Regions from separate parts of the Homo sapiens genome. Here region 1 is linked to region 2. Evidence: fine-mapped expression QTL. A gene starts in region 2. The other region holds a variant in brackets. All regions are shown on one strand. Distances are from middle to middle.

Region 1 (2,925 bases), 95 kb after region 2:
CATATTTTAGAATGTGGTTTAATTTTCTTTCATCACCATAATGGGTCAGAGTGTGCAGAACAGTGATTGCAACAAAATTGCATTTTTAAGAAAAGGTCGTGCAATTAGCTGATGGATTGATGGAGATAACTATGACAGGCAGAATCCTCACTGGTCCACTGCAGAAATCCACAGAATAAATAATCAGAACATTTGAGCTTCCCCCCGCTCCACAAAAAAAAGTTAAAACAAATGCTATAGACATAATTCAGAATACTGTTCTGAAAAGACTGGAAGCAAGCCAAGGCTTGAGAATATCTAAGCCATACTGGGAAGGCAGAGAAGATGAAAGAGTAGTGATTCAAACTGGGGTGAGCTGGTTGGACAGGCGTACATCTGGCTTACCAAGCCTATTGGGTTTTTAAGCCAAGAAAGGTAATACAGTGCGAGAAAAAGTTAGCAAAACAAACAATGGATTCTGAAAATAACAAATCCCAGAGATCAGTAGAATCAGGTGAGAAAAAAACAAGTTTTGAATGTACTTAAGCTTAGAAAGTATTTCTGGGTTAAAGTAAATGAGAAAGCAAAACAGTGTACAATGCAACTTTAAAAGCTGTGTAAGGAATTTGGTAACTCAAAAATAAACTGACAATTTCATTTGTGATTTAAATCTGTTATAATGAAAACTCACGTGATTACTTTAATACTTTAAAGGGTTTGAAAGGTTGACCTACGCTAATTATTGAGCCATATAGTATCCTCACACTCATGAAAATGAATGTGGGGAGAAAATTTCTTCCTTAATGCAATAGCTATTTGGCCACTTGTAGGCAGTATTTTAGAGGTGATTCATGCATTGCTTAGTATAGCAGTTATGCAAAACTTAGTGCATAAAACAATGACCAGTTTTTTTAGCTCATAATTCTGTAAGTCAACAATTTGTCTGGGCTTAGCTGGGCTTTATTTTTTCTTCTTGTATATCAAGTTTTCTCTTGCATTTGGCAAGAGCTTTTGGGTTGGGTGGGGGTTGGCTAGTTTAAGATGACTTTGACTAGAAAGACTGGGATGAATGGGACCTCTCTACACATGGTCTCTCACCCACCAATAGTTTAAACTGGCTTGCTCATATGCTAAACATTCTCCGAGAGAAAAAGAGAAAGAGAGAGAGGAAAAGATGAAAGGAGAGGTGGGGGAGAGAGAGAGATGAAATATACAAATCTTTAGTCTGAGAATCAAAACCTACTCTATTTTATTCTATGTCATGTATGTCAGAAAAGCAAGTAATAAGACTAGTCCAGACTCAAGAAGCGAGAAACTAGATAGACTCACTTCTTGATGTGGGGTGGGGTGGGGGTGGGGGTAGAATTTGTGATCATTTTTTACACTCTGAAAATATGTGTTAGAATAGAAACTTCCAAGGACCATTCCAATTCTTAATGCCAATTCTTTTGTGAAAATAGGGTGCCACCAGTTCCTGTGGACACTCAGTTGTTTATCTTCATTGCCTTCTTTACTCTTTGTTCTTTACTCTTCTATGTCTGAAGTGATAGCTTAGTTAGAGCTGATTCCATGGGACTGGGCTCAGTAGTAGCAGGATCTTTTACCAAGAACTGTGGGCAAACTAAATCAAGTATGGCAGTCAAGGGCCAGTTATCTTGAGA[G/C]ATGAGTCATATTAGTTTTCCAAAATAAATAAGTCTTGGAAAGAGTGCCAGAAGCTAAACTAAGAAGTCTTAGGAAAGCCAAAACTAAAATTCAAGCATGAGAAATCACTGCCCAAGACTGAGGTGAATAATGTTTATTTAAAAAGCCTAATCATGCTTATTAGAATGACACAGGCCTAGTTTTTGACATTCAAAGGCCCAGAAATTAAGTGGATATGATTCTTTTACTAATCAGTATGGAATCGCACAATAGTAATAGGCAGCATCTGTTAAGTACTCACTATGTGACAGAAATGGGCTAAGCACTTTACACTAAATCTAAAGGCAATCCTATGAGATAGACACTATTTTTAGTTTTATATAAGAGGGATTTGAGGATTAGAGAATGCACTGTATTACAGCAAAATGATAAAGTTTACACAACTGGCAAGCAGGAGAGCTAGGATTTCAATCCAGGACAGTCTGATTCCAAATATTCAGCCTTGAATCACAAAGTCATAAGATCACTCCAAAAGGTTTTGGCTGAAAGAATTATAGACCGTCTAGTTACATTTTAGAAATGTTATAACTTAGCCAATGTTACATACTTAAACAGTATCAGAATTGGAGCTAGAGACTAATTTAGGTTACACATATACCAATCTTGAAGGAAGCGTTTATGCTATATATGCATATAAACCGTATATGGATACATCATACAAATTAATCTACAACATGCCCCTATGCTTTGTAATACCAGCAGTGTTGATCACATTCTGCTCAATAAAATCTTTATAAACATAACTTAAATATCAGACAAAAATAAGCTGTTCTTTTGGGTGTTTAATATGAAAAATATGTAGAGAAATTAGGCTATTTATGCAAGATCACTTTACTTTCTTCCCCACCACTCACTCCATGCTCCAATTGTTTTACATAACCCATCTTTCCAAATTGTGTTTTGTATTTTCATTTTTTGTTTTCAAATTTCCTAGGTTTTTAACCAACCCCATCTTCACTCCCCTTCCCCATGCTTCTAAAGTATGATTCATCTTTATAATCCCAAGTCAAATGCCTCAACCCTTTTTGGCTGGATTAATCTCATCCTTCCTTCTCTGAATTCTTGTATAGACTTAAATTGCCTGAGAGCTATCATGGTGCCACATCAAACTGAGTTCCTTGAAAGCAGGAGCTCTGCTTTCTATTTCTTTAAATTTCTAGTACACAGTATGTTACTTGGTACAACATACGTGCTCAATAAAGATATACTGAATAGTCACATTTATGACAATAGACTTATGAGACA
Region 2 (2,925 bases):
CTCTTTTAAACAATTTTTTTATATAAATTTAAGGCTCTCTCTGAGAACAGACTATGGAGGAGGCAAGGGTGGAAGCAACTTGGAAACCAGTCAGGAGACTCCGGCTATCATTTAGTTGGTGGTACAGACCAGAATGGGAGTAGTTGAGGTGTTAAGAAGTGGTCAGATTCAGCAAACACTGTGAAGGTGGAATTAAGGAGATTTTCTAATGGAGAGAGAGATTTCAAGGATACCAAGATTTTAGGCCTGAGCAGCTGGCAAAATGGAGTTGCCATCAACTGAGATGGAAATCTCTGGGTTGAACAGATTTGTAGGAGAAGGCAAAAAGTTAAGTTTTGGACAAACCAAGTTTCAGGTGTCTATTAGTTATCCAAGTGTAGATGTCAAGTAGGCAGTTTTTGAACTGGATAGAGATATTTGGGAGTCATCAGCATCGGAGACATTGAAATATGTGCTTCTGGATGAGATCACCAAAGAGTCAATGCAAATTGAGAAGGCCAAGGACTGCACCTCGAGGCACTCCAATATTAAGACATGGGAGAAAGAAGGGAAAGCTTAGCAAAGGAAACTGGAAATCAATGGCCAATGAGGTGGAAGGAAAACCAAAAAATGAAGAAAGAATATCCAAAGGAGGAGTTGGTGAGCTGCTGAGGCAAATGATTCTAAATCCACTAATGGAAACTAGAGTTTTAAAAAGCTAACTATGTGGGAAAAAATGGATTCTCCACCCCTTTGGTCCATATAAATAAAGGAAGAAATTTGAAGTGCTTTTATATATGCAACTTAACTTCATGTCGTTGTTTAAAAGCCAAAACGTTTCACAGGTACATAGGGAAAGCAAGCTGCAGGCTCAGGGCTGAGAACACAGGTCCCATTAGTCTTAAGGAAGGGTGTTTTAAATTCTGACCTCAATTGTTTAGACAATGTTGATTTCACAGCCTCCACCTTATATATATTATCATGTAGGAGATAGAGTGCTTGCTGCAGTAAGTTCAGGTGTTTTGTGTTGCAGAGAAAACTGTAAAATCTGTTTTAGATGTTTGCATGTTTACCTAGTTTTTCACTTCAAAAAATTGGTGAAGAGACTTCTGTCAAAAGAATTTCAGTGGGCTACCTACCACCTCTTTCCCACAGTGGAAGCAGAGATTGGTGATTAATATCCTCTGTCCTGCGGGGGAAAAAATTCATGATGTCAGAAAATGAGTGAGTCAACAGAAAGCCTACCTAAGAGTCTCCTTGGCTGAGGAGGAAGACGAAAGCACAGTTCTGAGCATGAGAGCTCACATTCTGTTTCTACCAGGTGCTGAAGAAAAGCAAGACAGGGTAAGTTATGGATCTATCAAAGCCTGAAGTGGGTGGGGTTGCTTTATTAGGTTATACTTGAGTACCTGGTTACTGCTGGAAATGTATGCTGTGCGTGGACAAGAGTAACCGAAAAGAGAGTAACAGAGTTGGGTATCTGGAGTCACACTTGGTTTACAGAAAGCCAAGAAGGGACAAAATCTAGAAATGTCCTTTACACTTGCTGACAGTTATAAGTTGCGGAAAACTAGCGAGGTGTTCATGTTTGCAAATCAATGGACTTCTGAACAGGAACTTTCAGATGAGTCTCTTCAGAATAAAATTATGAAAACAGATTATTAGCATCGTCTTTCTCTCTTCCCTTCCCTCCCCTCCCCTTCCCTTTCCTTTCCTTTCCTTCTTCTTTATTCTTGCTTCCCTCTTCCTCCCCTTCCTTCCTTTCTCCACCTTAGAAAATTAAATGCTCTTTTTGATTATCTTAGTGGTTAAGACTGAAGAGTTGATCCTGCGCTGTGCTGTGGAGTGGGCAGCTTCTCTCCATCTTCTCTCACCCTGACACACTGTCTTAGGATTCCAGTCTCAGAAGCCAGGTATTGGGTATGGTCTATATTCTGAAAAATAATTTTTATCATTGATGTGAGACTTTTAAATTTTTCTATTTTTAGTCATTTTTATAAAACAGAAAGAAAAAAAATCCACCTCAAATCATTTCAGAATCAAAAATAAATAAAAATAAATGCTTTAAAATCATGCATATTTTAGTGTTTCTATTTTATATATTTTGATAACAAAATTGTACTGGGAACACAACATTTTCTTGGTGCAAGGAGATATTCATAGGCACTTAATCATTTATTTAAATAATCCACAAACATGGAGGTTAAGCATAAAATAGTGACGTTGTTTATCTATTTGAAATGTTAACCATTTATTTTCCAAAAAGGCAATATATACCAAAGGAAAACTAAATTGGCATATTTTAACTCTACAAAAATGTATGAATATTTAAATTTACAGCAAAAGAACAATTATATCATCTAATAATGCTTACAGTATTTAAAATCTGTCATTATGCACAATCTACTTTTATAAATGTTAAAGAACCATGTGCCAAGCATATATCTAAAACATTTTTGAAATTACTCCTTTCTAGCTGTGGCTACACTGACCAAAACAACAACAACAACAACAACAAAACAAAACAAAACAAAAAAAGCTGAAATACAAAAAAAAAAAAACAAAAAAAGACATGTAATCATCAAGTTCTTTTTTCCCCCTTGTGCTATTTTTAGCAGAAATTTCAGCACAACTGGAACCAAGCAGCAGCTTACTTTCGTTTTCACACCAATGGAATGCATGATGAAAATCTCATTTTTAAAAAACATTATAGATATAGCCTTAATCATCTAATTTTCCATTCTCATTCTAACTCATTAAAAACAGAATATTGAGTGATTTGTTCTCCCTAGCTAAAAACAAAAACAAAATAACTTTATATAACATAACACAAGTATCGCAGAAGTGGTCTTTATCTTAAAGGATCCTTAAGAAAAGAGCTGCCTGAATTCACCAGTATTTCAGAGGGATTTTTCTTTTAAAACAAATACAGTGAAAATTGTCTTT

Which allele goes with the higher level. Alleles are on the strand shown, and positions count from the first base shown. SD is a standard deviation of normalised expression in the study named.
In carriers of allele G in region 1, the expression in tibial artery of the gene that starts at base 1,251 in region 2 tends to be lower than with C alone (moderate effect, 0.44 SD a copy in GTEx).

The links. PIP is the estimated chance that this variant, and not a neighbour inherited with it, causes the effect. A credible set is the group of variants that fine-mapping cannot tell apart.
Region 1: its variant is the best candidate, but not a certain one, in a credible set for the expression of GALNT13-AS1 in tibial artery (GTEx, PIP 0.83).

What each region holds. Positions count from the first base shown.
Region 1 is chr2:154,360,652-154,363,576 of GRCh38, reverse strand. All of the region lies in intron 9 of GALNT13 (polypeptide N-acetylgalactosaminyltransferase 13), which reads right to left. Among named protein-coding and RNA genes, the nearest start is that of GALNT13-AS1, 95 kb to the left of the region's middle. The variant G/C (reference allele first, on the strand shown) is at 1,641.
Region 2 is chr2:154,455,764-154,458,688 of GRCh38, reverse strand. It overlaps GALNT13-AS1 (GALNT13 antisense RNA 1), which reads left to right and starts at 1,251. Exons shown (of 5, transcript NR_161181.1): 1 at 1,251-1,323; 2 at 1,785-1,892. It also overlaps a transcript of GALNT13 not described here.